Regions from separate parts of the Homo sapiens genome. Here all the other regions are linked to region 1. The links come from fine-mapping of genetic effects on gene expression. A gene starts in region 1. Each other region holds a variant in brackets. All regions are shown on one strand. Distances are from middle to middle. Region 1 holds the start of BOC (BOC cell adhesion associated, oncogene regulated). Region 2 overlaps NEPRO-AS1 (NEPRO antisense RNA 1). Region 3 overlaps BOC (BOC cell adhesion associated, oncogene regulated).

Region 1 (4,241 bases):
AGAGGATAAAAGAGACAGTGTCTGAGGTCTCAATCCTCAGGCTTCATAAATGTGTAGACACCCTCCAGCCTCCTCAAGGCCCAAATTCTGAGTGACAAATCTATACAGGGGAGGACAGTGTCAGCAAAGTGGCCCAATGAGGCAACTCTTCTTTCTTTCATTTTACCTCTTTGCATAAACTCATTTGAAAAACTCATAGCAGGAAAATAATAACTCTACTGCTGTTTCTGCCCGGCCTCTGTCCCACTGACCCCAAGGTGCTTTCAGATCACCACGAGAAGCTTCTGGGTCTCAATTATGAGACCATTAAAAAGTACCAATTATAAGACCTCAGAAATGTTTCTGGGAAACCTGTTACACACCTCAAAATGGCTAACCTCTTGCCTCAGATTTACTTTAAGTTCAGAAAACAGGTCACCCAGATGTATGGGCATCCTAGCCCCCACAAGCAGCCCAAGACTGTGGTTTAATATTTTCCATGCTGCCCTTAAGAAAACGAAGATTGATTTATTGGCTGTAACCAAAGGGATGAAAAAAACCATCACAGAGCTGGGCTGCCTGTTTAAGACCCAGTCGTGGAATAAATCAGAAATGTCTGCACACTGAAGTTTTAAAATGACATTCATCCAATGGTCAATGTGTACCGAGTTCTGGACAACAAAGAACTAGGTGACAAATGTGTGCTGGGCACAGTGCATCTGCAGGTGGCACAAGGGCCTGAAATCAAAATATAATCTTCACTCAGTCCACTCAAAGAGGTAACTCTGGGTCAAAAACTTAGGCGAACCCATTTGAACTTGCAGAGAAGGGATGAGGGGAGCAGCAGAACACCCCACCACACCCAAAAAGTGCCAGTTTGGGATTGCTGGTGTGTGGTTTCGGTATTCTTAGCTCTACTGCCACATCTCTGGAGGAGCACAACTCTGTTCCAAGCAACTCTGGCACTGCCACCCCCATCCCCAAAACAAAACTCTGCCAAACAAATCCCCGAGGCTCCATTAACTCCTTCAGGTCTGCCTGCCTCTCTCATCCCTCAGCATTCTCCCATCACCTGGAAAAGCAAATTAATACTGAACATCCTGAAAGTCAAGCAGGCCCTTCAACACCCCCATGAAAATTCTTCCTGGGTTCCCTGCCCTCCCCACAGCCCCGTCCCACTGGTTCCAGAGATTCATTTCCCACACCTTCTCACAGTTACATCAACAAAAACCCCAGGAGGACGCTGCTGGCGCGAACACGCACACACGCGCGCGCACACACGTACACGCACACACGAACTCTCTCTCTCACACACACACACACCTCTTTCACCTTTGCCCCAGCCCCTCAGACACCTCGGGCCACTCGGCTTCAGCCTCGCCCCTCTGCGCCAACAGCTAGGGATGCTTCCCTCAAGCTGCGTCGCTCCCGGTCCGCTGAGTTCCTCATTTTAGTGTTTTTCCTTTAGAAGACGCCAACTATGAGAAACCCTCACCCTCCAAAGAGGCCGAGTGCGTGTTGAGTGACTCTACGCATTTGCCGCCACGCCTCGGGTTCCCCCCACGGCCTGGAGCATGGGGCCGGGGCGCTGGTGTCAACCTTCGGTGGAAGTTTGGGAGGCTGGCTGGATCCTTCTTCCACCCGAGAAGCTTCTGGGAACCGCTGAGGCGAAACCACCATCGCCCGGCCAGACCGCTGCGGCAGGGAACGAGATGCGGCGCCCCTGGGCCCCGTAGCGGCTGCAGCCCCCGGGACCCCCGCTGCCCGCCTCGCCCCAACTTCTTCGCCCGGCGCCCGGCGCGCCCAGCCTCGGCCGCAGCTCCCAGCCCCGGGCGCCCGGCCGAGCGCTGGGACCCGGCTCCCGCCGCCGGCACGTCCCCCGGCAGCCACTCGCTGGCGCTGCCTCGGCCTGCGGCCGCCTCCCGCCCCCTCCTCTCCCCGAACCAACAGTAAACACAACTTTTTATGAAAAGAAAACAAACTTCAGCGACGTGACTCACCTCTGCTGCAGCCGGCGCCTGGGAAGGGCGAGCCGGGGCCCGGGGGCCAGCGTGGTGGGCGCGAGGGAGCCACACAGCGCCGCGCCGCACGGACACACAACACGCTCGGTGACACCGGGGACACACAACACGGGCGAGCGGCCGCGGCTGGAGCAACAAAGGAGCCGAGGACCGAGAAGTTGCGGGCCGGAGAGGGAGGGCGCGTGCGGGCGTGTTGTGGCTGTGGCGGGCGTGAGGGTGTGCGCGCCGTGTGTGCGCGTGTGTGTCTTTTCTGTGTGTGTTTGTGTGTCTCTGTGTGTGTGTCTGTGCGCGCGCGCGGCGGCTGACACCGGCGGGCCGGGGCTCAGGGTCCCCGCGGCAGAAAGCGGCGGCCGCGGGGGCGGCAGCAGGAGGACAACGCAGGGGACGCCGCGCCCAGCGCACCCGGTCCCTCCATATGGAAGAAGCTTTTTGGATGACTGAACTCGCAAACAATTCCTTCTTTTGCTTCTCCTGCCTAGGAGCCTCCCATTACCGTGCGAGGAGGAGGAGGAGGAGGGAGTGGAGGAGGCTGGGAGGAGGGGGAGGAGCAAAATGGAGCAAAGAAAAAGTCTTGGAAAGGAAGCTGGAAAAAGTCCCCCAAACTCTAGGGCAGTTTTCCCGTTAACACCCACTTTTTGCTGTGCCTCAGACCCGCGCTCTCCTCCAACTTCTTTTGCTTTCCCATACCAAAAGCACCATCTTCTCCCTTTTCCCCGAACCCAGGGGGCTCCCCTGAAGCCTTCACTTTCTCTTTAGCTTCACCTCGCACCCTTGCTCTTCCATGTACAATCCTTCCCTCCTTTCGCCTAGTCTCTTCCAAGACTTTCCTGACACCCACCTCTCAATGGTCTTCTTCTTCTGCAAGACAAACTGTTGGATAAATCATTAAAAGCAAACTCATCAGAAAATGGGACAGCGGCGGTGGAGAAAATGATAAGGAAACCAATCTCAGGGAAGCCTTAACGCAGCCTCCCCCGACCCCCTCGGTCGGTTGGGGAGGGTTTGCCGCGTCGTCCATTGACAGCGCCCTGACCTCCATTCATCATCCCAGGATGGAGCCAGGGAGGAATGGGGAGGGAGAGCTGGGGCTGGGGTTGGGGGCATGGGTTGGGGGTGCTAGTGGCCACGGAAAAGTTAGTTACCTATGCGTGTGTATGTGTACGCGCACGCGCGCGTGTGTGTTGGTCAGAAAACTTTCAGAGCTGTGGTTCTCAAACTTGATCTGCAGCAGGACTCCCTGGAAGGCTTGCTAAATCCCTTTGCTGGGCCCCACCTCCAGAGTTTCTGATTCAGTAGGTGGACCTGGGAATTTGCATTTCAAATAGGTTCCCAGGTGATGCTGATGCTGCAGGTCAGGGGCCACGTTTTAAAAACTACCTTTCCAGGGCAGTGAGAAGGCAAATGTTGAGTTGGTGGCAAATTGGATTCCCTTCTTATTTTTTAGGAATGAAGCACAGGTTGTGAGCGGTCATCCATTCCGTATCTTCATTGCAGCTGAGAAAACCAAGTCCCAGCAGGGCTAAGCCATTTGTTTAAAGTGAACTGGGAGTTTGTGCCAAGCTGGTGAGGAAGCTGTCCTGGAAATAAGACAGCCAGGCTAGTAGTAGGGTGAATGGGGGTGCTGCCTTCCCTGTGTGGCTGGACAGCTGCACTGGGAGTCAGGAAGCCACTGTGACTTTGGAAAGTCACTTAACTTTTCTGGGCCTCTGGGGGTTTTGTGTGTGTGTGTGTGTGTGTGTGTGTGTGTGTGTGTGTGTGTGTGTGTGTTTGTTTGTTTGTTTGTTTTTTGACAGAGTCTCACTCTGTCGCCCAGGCTAGAGTGTAGTGGTGCAATCTCGGCTCACTGCAAAGTCTGCCTCCTGAATTCGAGAGATTCTCCAGTGTCAGCCTCCCAAGCAGCTGGGATTACAAGCACCTGCCACCATGCGCGGCTAATTTTTGTATTTTTAGTAGAGACGGAGTTTCACCATGTTGTCCAGGCTGGTCTTGAACACCTAGCCTCAAGTGATCTGCCCACCTTGGCCTCCCAAAGTGCTAAAATTACAGGCGTGAGCCACCTCACCCGGCCCTGTTTTGTTTTTTATTAACTTGTTTCTTGTCAGTAAACATACATACTTTACACTGAGTATAGGACTCTAATTGAATCTGAACCAAAAGACCTTTACAAAGGAAACATAAATGTATTTTATTCCATATTTTGCACTATTTTTTCTCCGGTATTTAGTCATTCAGGCAGAAGCC
Region 2 (4,241 bases), 72 kb after region 1:
TAATATGTTTAAGGCCCACAAATCAACAAGGAACATGTCCCCAAGGAATTCTGTTTTATCCATTGGATAATTAATAGTTCCAATGAGACAGTTCACAATGAAAAACCCAGGTCTTTGCTGTAAGAACCTTCATTGCACAAAGTTTCTCAATCTTATTTTATGCAAATATAACTCACATTCACCTATGGCTTTCTTCCCTTTTGTTATTAGGCAAATATTCTTTCCTTCTCAATTATATGCTTCTCTGGAGTCAAGTAAGGGTGGAGTAACAGTTGTACCTTTGTTCATTCACTTAATGGATGTACTAGTTAGGGTAGGCTGAATTGCTGTCATAAATACATGCCAAATGTATAATGGTTTGAACACAATAGAAGTTTGTTTCTCATATAATTGCTCAAGGGAGGTGCTCCTGGCTGAAGCGCAGCTCTCTTTCACAAGGTAGTTAAGGGACCATGGCTTCTTAGACCCTGTGGCTCTACAGACCCTTAAGGCCACGTCACCCAGCACACATAAAGAGTGTGGAAGAACACAGAATAATTGACCCAGACCTGTTGAAGGTATACAACACTTCCACTTACATCTTTGGAAAGAATTTAGTTATTTAGTTACATGGCTTTACTTCACTGTAAGGAAGACCAGAAAATATAGCTGTGCTCTGTGCCCAGGAAGAAGGGGAAGAAGGATTCTAGTAGATAGTCTGCAGACTGCCAAAATGACATAATTTTATTTCTACTTTTAACCACTGTTGTTCATCGCCTTAGTTTAATTTCTACAAAACTTCCATAATTTCTTGGCTATGTTGTTGGCTGACCACTGTAGCAAAGGAGGGTTGGGTGTGTGGTTCAGCAGTAGGTGAGCAGGAAAATCTCAGAGGCAGCATCATGGCAGCTGATGAGTCTGGAGGACTGGAGGGAACTGATGGTGCAGGAGGCCAGAGGAGACTGAGAGTGTGTGGCCAGAGGCCCTGTGCGGAGGTTAATCTGCTGAATAGTGAAAGGGGAAGATGACTGAGACAGGAAGAAACCAGGAGTATGATTCATTTGGCTTTGAGAAGAACTTTTTTTTAACACCTCAGCATGGGCAAGGATATTGTATACCTAACACTACATATGTTTCAGGAAGTTTCCGAGCAATGAAGTAGCTTCTCCAGTAATGTGTTTACATTTGATCAGTGAAAAGCTACTTATTGATCTCCCATGATGTACCTGGATCTATGCTAGGCTCTCTACTAAATACAACCCCTATTCTTTTTTTTTTTTTTGCTGGAGTCTCACTCTGTCACCCAGGCTGGAGTGCAGTGGCACGATCTCAGCTCACTGCAACCTCCACATCCCAGGTTCAAGCAATTCTCCTGCCTTAGCCTCCTGCGTAGCTGGGATTACAGGCGCCCACCACCATGTCTGGCTAATTTTTGTACTTTTAGTAGAGACAGGGTTTTACCGTGCTGGCCAGGTGGGTCTGGAACTCCTGACCTCAGGTGATCTGCCTGCCTCAGTCTCCCAAAGTGCTGGGATTACAGGCGTGAGCCATCACGCCTGGCCACAAGCCGTATTCTTAAAGAATTTATAATCCAACTAGTCAAACATAACATGTACCTAAAATAACTCAATAGCATAGGAGAAAACTGAGGGCAAAATATATGGATATCAACTCTCCAGATTAAAAAAATTCAAAAGAATGGTTGATCACTGAGGGCCAAGATAGTCAAGGAAGGCTCCATAGAAGAGGTTGGAATAAAATGACTGGGATAGAAAGGGAGACAAAGAAAAGTGTACCAGGACGGGTGGAAAAGGCCAGAATGAACAGTAAGAGCGCCAGGAGAGTGGTGGGTGGGGTGAAAGGCTATAGAGGTAGGCATTGGGCCCAACCATGGGTAATTTTGAAAATCAGGAATAGGCACCTAGACTTGGTATGGTAAGAAACAGAGAAAACACAGGCCCTCTCTTTTATCTTTACCATGATGTTTTCCAGGTTAAGAAATCTACTTGAAAGCATCTAACCCTTAACCTGATAGATGTTAGTAAACATTTATTCACCCCAGAGAGTAATACATTGGCGGTGGTGTGCAGAAAATACTTCATTCATTCATTCTTCAAGCATCTACTGGATGTTTTCTACATGCCACATTCTGAGCTAGACACAGAGGATGCAAAAATTATAATAAAGTCGTGGTATCTCCTTGGGGTTAGATTATCATAGACTGGATCCTCCTATATACTGGTAACCAAGAGGTGCACAGTTCCCATACCTGTGCTCTGTTTCTACCTTGCCCCTTGTCAAGGTAATGCTGTCTATCTCGCCCACTTAAATCTGACCCCAGAGATCACTTCTTGTGTTTATCTAAAAACCAGGGTTTGCGCCCATTTCCTTATGCTCATTAGGGCAGGTTAGGCTCCCAGTGCTGAGTTGCTGGTCTCCTTGGAGCACCAACCAAAACAAAAAATATCAGCCTCCTAGGATGTCTGGCAAGAACTTCTGAGATAAATCACATGAAAGTGTTTCAAAATCTGAGGGAGGCCATCCAAATGTAATGGATAATTACTATGATCACCACC[G/C]AAGATGGCCGGTCCTCCACTCCTTGGGGCGTGGTCTCTCAGAGCTAGGTTCTCATGATCATGTGTGTGCAAAGGGCCCTACTTACTTTTGGATTCTTTTGCTTATTGACTATGCATAAAAGGCCAAGTTTGGCATCCACAAGTAACTATTTTCAGGCATATTTATCTAGTTTAGCTGGAGCTAGTTTGTTTACAGACAATGTGGTCTGCACACAAGGCTGGGAGTTCAGGTGCTAAATAGAATTCCCGCTCAGTTTCTAGCCTGCTGTATGGCCTTGGGTAACCTGCATAACTTCCTTGTGTCAATTGGTTCTTAACTGTCACCTCAGAGCCATGCTGATTTGTCTAAGAGATGTTTGGAGAGGATGAACTGTTTATCACCTCTAAACTGATTTTTAAATACTGACGTAAAGACTCCTGGTTTCCAGTCTGACACATAAGGAACTTAGAAGTCACCATTCCATTCTAATAATAAGTAAGAAACCAAGCACAGAGAGTAAAACAATGGTTACCAGGGGATGGGAGGGGTAGGAAATGGGGAGAAATAGGTCAAAGGGTACAAATTTGTAGTTATGCAGGATTAGTAAGTCTAGAGATCTAACATACAGCATGAGGACTACAGTAAATACAACCTTATCATAGACTGAAAATTTGCCAAGAGAGTAGATTTTAGGTGCTCTTAACACACACACACACACACACACACACACACACACACACACGAAGTAACTATGGAAGATGATGGGTGGGTTAATTTGCTTGGCTGGAGTAAGCATTTTACCGTGTATAGTTATATAAAAATATCATGTTGTACACCTTAAATATATACAATTTAAAAAGCCAAACAAAATACAAAATCAGCAACTCTTCTTAGATCTGTCAGAGAAGTGAGGCCACAGGGCAATCACTGGCCCCAAAATTGGAGAGACAGACAGGTGGATACAGAGCATCCTATGGCATATCCCAAGTGATCACATTTTAACACAAAGAAAAACACCAAGAAATTCCAAAATGTAAAAATAGTGCAGAAGGCATTTTCTGTTCATGATGTAATATAGCCCGATCTTAATAATAAAACAAAATAATAAAACAACAAGATATTCTAATATCTGGGAAAAAAACCCCAAAACTCTTTTTAAAGCAACTCTTGGATCATAAAGAAAATCAAAATCAAACCTAATATTCAGAAAATAAGAAAATGTTTAAATTTAAAATAAAAATATGTTTTAAGGAAAGATAGAAGATAGAAGCTATGAAGCTATATGAAAAAGAAAGCAAGGAAATGAAAAAGAATTCAGCATGATCTTTATCTCTGGTGGTTGGAGGAGTAGTATGGACAGAAGCAGAGGGAGGGAATGGGAGGGGCAATATAGGTAGATGGAGTTTATTGTCAAGACGCATTGGGTGATGGGCCCATATTTTAAAAATTATGTTAAAAAATGGAAGAACTAAACAAAAGATGGCTATGCATTTACCAATGATGAGAGTGTAACATAAATTAAGGATGATGATTAATCCAATTCTGTGCCAAAAACTAATTTAGAAATAACTATATACTAGAACCTAAGGAGTGCAATTTAAAGCAGTGCTCAGAGGAAAATTCATAGTCTTCCATATGTAGAATAATAAAAAGACTGATAATGAAAGAAGTAACATCTGACTCAAAGAATTAATAAAAAGAACTGA
Region 3 (4,241 bases), 36 kb before region 1:
CATTTGGACAGACCTGAGTCTCATCCCAGTGCCACTACTTCTGAGCCATGTGACTCTAGCCTTGTGAAGTGTCCGTTTCTTACCTGTAAAATGAAGCTAATATTGATTGTCTCACAAGGTTGTCATGAGTCTTGCAAACGATATGTGTAAATTGCCTGCCGTGACACTGTACAGTAAGTGCACAATAAAAAGCAGTTATTATTATTACTTCTCCTCCTCCTCCGGTATAGCTTTGAAATGAGTCAAATACCAAACTATAACCAATATGATGTTGTTGTGATCATGTCTCATCTTGTGTTCTTGTGTCCCTGAAGGCCAATGGGAATAAAGTGTTCTTTGAAATCCAGGTAAAGAAGGCCTTTTTAAAGAGTTATTGTAGAATGCGGAATGTTTCCATTTGACTGTAAGGGCAGGGAAAGGGAAGGAAAGCACTCACTCAAGTCAGCAAAGCAGCCTGCTGTGGCTAGGAGGAGGCAAGCCAGTGTGACCTCAGGCCTCATTCCTCTCCACGCCGTCATCGTCCCACGCAGCATGGTGTATCACAAAGGTCTGAAGCCAACGTCCCATAAGCCGCCAGGGTCACACAAAGAGATACTGCCGTCCCTGGCAACACTCTGTTGTAAGAGAGAAAGGGAGAGCAATGGCCATGATGAGGATGCCTGGGGTGCACCTGTGGTGGCCACAGGGCTTGGCTTTGTCCCTTGTTCCCTGTTGGCAACATTCAAACTAGAGACCCGGTCATGCTGCTGGAAGACCAAAGAACACTATAGTGCCATTTCTCATCTAAAAGAAGCTTCTTATAAGTTGCCCCCTAGGGCTCTTTCTCTAGCTAGAAGGTGATTTTATTGTAGTAAGAATGCTGGAGTCTTGCCCAGTGGATGGACAGCAACGAGGAGGAGGGGCAGAGGATACAGAGAGGCTGAGGCCTGCAGCCATATCCATGGCACAGGACAGTGACTATCTGGCACAGATGCTAGAACAGATGAGATTATTCTTACCATTTGCTTGCAAAAGGCCAGCTGGTCACAGCCATGTGCCCTGCCATGTGGTTAGTGCAGACTATTGTGGGACAGCAGTGCCGTGTGTGTGATGCATACAGAACGCCCTTGCAGGGAATGCTACTAAGTGAATGAATCCTAGCATCTCAGTGACTCATGAAATATTTCCTGCTCTGATTTTCCTCACCCCAGCTCTATGCCTAGATCCCTGAAAACTCCCTTTTATTCCTGCAATCACCCTGCTCTCCTCAGCTTGTCCATAACATCTACTCCCACAGGTACAAACACAGCCCAAAGTCATAAGCCAGCCAAGACCCCTCACTTTCTCAGGGCACAGAGCCTTGTTTTCGCTTCACTCACTAGCTCCCACTTCTCTCTGCTCCCGGTGCTAGAAAATTTTGAACTTTTCCGTCTCTACAAAATCTACACTCTTGATTACCCAAGTTGTATCTCCACCCAGAACAACATTGCTTTGAGGCTCAGACCACACTGCACCTCCAGCCATCTGACAACACACCTCAGCTATCAGTCACCCTCTCTGCCTAGAACAGTAGCATCTCCTGTTCCAGAAGGCACAATTTTTTATGCCTTTCTTAAGCTATGGTCCTTACAAGATTTATCAAAATCACATGGGCAAGTGTATATTCTAACACACACACACACTTCTGTCACAGCCAAAACAAAGATTTTGCTTCTGTGCTTTTCACTGATGGGTTTATAGAACATTAACAAATAAGGATGGGGTATCAACAGCCTTATTAGGCAGGGAGGCATTGAAATGAGTTCGGATAACGTTGAAGGCAACATTCCAGTGATCTGCACGGTGGATCATTCACCTGTGGCAATATTAATAGTATATTTCTAGGAGTGTGACATACATTCAAAATGTTAACTCTTCTAGATCAATCTACCTAACCAGAGACTCTCTCGAAGATTTACAGTCACCATTTAAAACTCAGAAGTAGTTAAGCTTCTCAACTGAGAGATGTGTTGTGCTGGCCAGTCCTAGAGTTCAGGCTGCCTGCAGAGACTGCCGTAAGAAACAGGAGACACCCGACTTGCCTGACACAGGGGACTGTTGCTGTGTTGGGAAGTGCTTCGGATTAACCTAAACCTTTCCCTTCCCCAAGACCTGTGGTCCTTTGGCTTTCTGCCTGGCTGCAGAGGGAGTGAGGAGGGCCATATCCACACTGCCCAATGAGCACCCCTCCAAACCAGATGGAGGACCCCAGCCCCTAGCATTCTGTGGATGCTCAGAATGTTTTCCAAGAGTTCTTTCCCGATGGTTTGTATTTTCTCCCTTTGCCTCATGACTTTGACATCAGAGGACTCACAAGACTTCAGCACTACTCTGGGATAGGACAAGGGGATGTTTTCTAAAAGGGATTTGAAAGAACATTTTTAAAGAAGTTTTTCAAAAGTTATTTCCTGGCAAGTTAAGATAATTTCCCGTTGGTGTAGAGAGAGAGCTTTTGCTCTTTTTCAAACAATCCAGTAAATCAAAGGGTCATATTATTGGCAAAGTAAAATTCATGAAAGCTGCAAAGGATGTGAGTACAATTGGGAGGGGCTGTGGTGGTGGAAAGCTGGGGGTGCCTGCCACTACTCCAGGAACTCGCTAAGCTCTTACACAATGTATTTCCTTTAACCTTCTCATCAACCCTGCAAGGTGA[C/G]GACTATATCCCCATTTTACAGGAGAGAAAATTGAGTTCCAGAAGTGAAGTTGCCCAGGATCACATAACAGTAGGCCTGGATTGAAACCCAGTTTAGGCTGATTCCCAAACTCTGTGCTTTTTAATCACAATAGTAGCCTTTTTCCCTTTTTTTTTTTTTTTTTCCTATCAGGGCTCTGAAACCAGTGGGTGTTTAGCAAACAGAGTTGATGTAGAACAGTGGGACATTTTAACAGTGATTTCTAGAGGGAAAGTTTACACCAAAAAGTAAGCTTTTGGTTTCCTCTCAATTTTCCAGATACTTGCTTTAATTCTCTAATTTGCTTTTCCCCAATGAGATAAGGTATTTATATAGATCATTGCATGAGTTCCCAGTTATGGGATTTTAGGGAACTAGCTTGTTCAAGTCATGCCCCAATTTCCCCAGGCCCTTAAGGAAATTGAAAGCAAATGTTCCTTCCATGCCCCAAGAAGGGAAGGAAGGGAGGGAGGAAGAAAGGGAAGAAGGGAGGTAGGGAGACAGAAAATGAACATAAAGTAATGAAGGGCAAAAGAGGACAAGCAGACAAAGAGGAATGGAAGGGTTGTTTCTTATCTGAACACACGGTGGCTACGGAGGTGTTGGGTTGTAACAGCAACAAATATTTTACTGAGGAAATTCAGCCCAGACCCTCTCCTGCTTAACGAGGACCAGCCAAACAATTCCTGTTACTTCTGCACCCTCGGTAATTTATAAGGTTCAAAATGGAAACAGATCCTGTTGCTGCTGCCAGCCACCATCCTGCTTTCAAAAACAACAAGGAGAAAAGAATTGGGAGTGAGAGGGAGTGAGAAGGTGCAGGTATCCAGAGAGGGAGAAAGGAGTTAACCCATTAAGCCCCACAACACAGTTGTAAGAAGTACCATTTTAAGGACCCCAAAACAGGATGCGTGGGGTCTCATTCATGTAAAAGCAGAACTATGACCAAAAAATATGGCTATGTTTGGGGAAGGTTGGGGGGCTTGGTCACTGGATGATGATTATAAATAAATAAATAAAATTATAAATACATAAAATGATGCATTTTATTTAGTATCTGGGGAAAGTGAGTTACTTTTTGAACCAAGTTACCTAGTGAGTTTGGTTTAGAAAGATAATTCTAGAGATTTCAGTTACCTGAGAACTTTATTTTAATGTTTCGGGAAAAAAGGCAAGTAACGCTTAAGCTGGAGAACCTAATTGCAGTGTAACGTTGTCCCATTGTGAAATGAACAAAGTACAATTTCAAAGTTGGGTGAAGGCAACAGTAAGGCCTATTATTTTTCTTGGCAATGCAAAATATATCTAAGATCCTTCTTATTTTCCTTAGTCATTTTCTGAGACAAAGCAGAGAAATCAAGAAAAAAATATCAAAATCATTTGACACCTCATTGAGGCCTAGGTACTTGACAGTTTAAAGGGTTATTTGGACACACACAAAAAAAGAAAGAAAATGGGTCTGAAACATTTAACTGCTGACACACATGTTCTCCACTGAAATAATCTCTTCCAAACAGATGTTTTTGAAACTTTCCAAAAACAACAACAACA

What was found. PIP is the estimated chance that this variant, and not a neighbour inherited with it, causes the effect. A credible set is the group of variants that fine-mapping cannot tell apart.
Region 2: its variant is the best candidate, but not a certain one, in a credible set for the expression of BOC in sun-exposed skin (GTEx, PIP 0.66).
Region 3: its variant is the best candidate, but not a certain one, in a credible set for the expression of BOC in sun-exposed skin (GTEx, PIP 0.69).

What each region holds. Positions count from the first base shown.
Region 1 is chr3:113,209,755-113,213,995 of GRCh38, reverse strand. BOC (BOC cell adhesion associated, oncogene regulated) reads right to left here and starts at 2,439. Exons shown (of 20, transcript NM_001378074.1): 1 at 1,980-2,439. LOC124909486 reads left to right here. Exons shown (of 2, transcript XM_047449436.1): 2 at 1,716-4,241. The coding sequence ends at 2,441. RefSeq lists an enhancer at 1,427-2,078.
Region 2 is chr3:113,137,826-113,142,066 of GRCh38, reverse strand. The region is part of intron 1 of NEPRO-AS1 (NEPRO antisense RNA 1); the gene reads right to left. Among named protein-coding and RNA genes, the nearest start is that of LINC02044, 28 kb to the left of the region's middle. The variant G/C (reference allele first, on the strand shown) is at 2,556.
Region 3 is chr3:113,246,095-113,250,335 of GRCh38, reverse strand. It overlaps BOC (BOC cell adhesion associated, oncogene regulated), which reads right to left. Exons shown (of 20, transcript NM_001378074.1): 3 at 437-614. The coding sequence starts at 533. Among named protein-coding and RNA genes, the nearest start is that of BOC, 37 kb to the right of the region's middle. The variant C/G (reference allele first, on the strand shown) is at 2,672.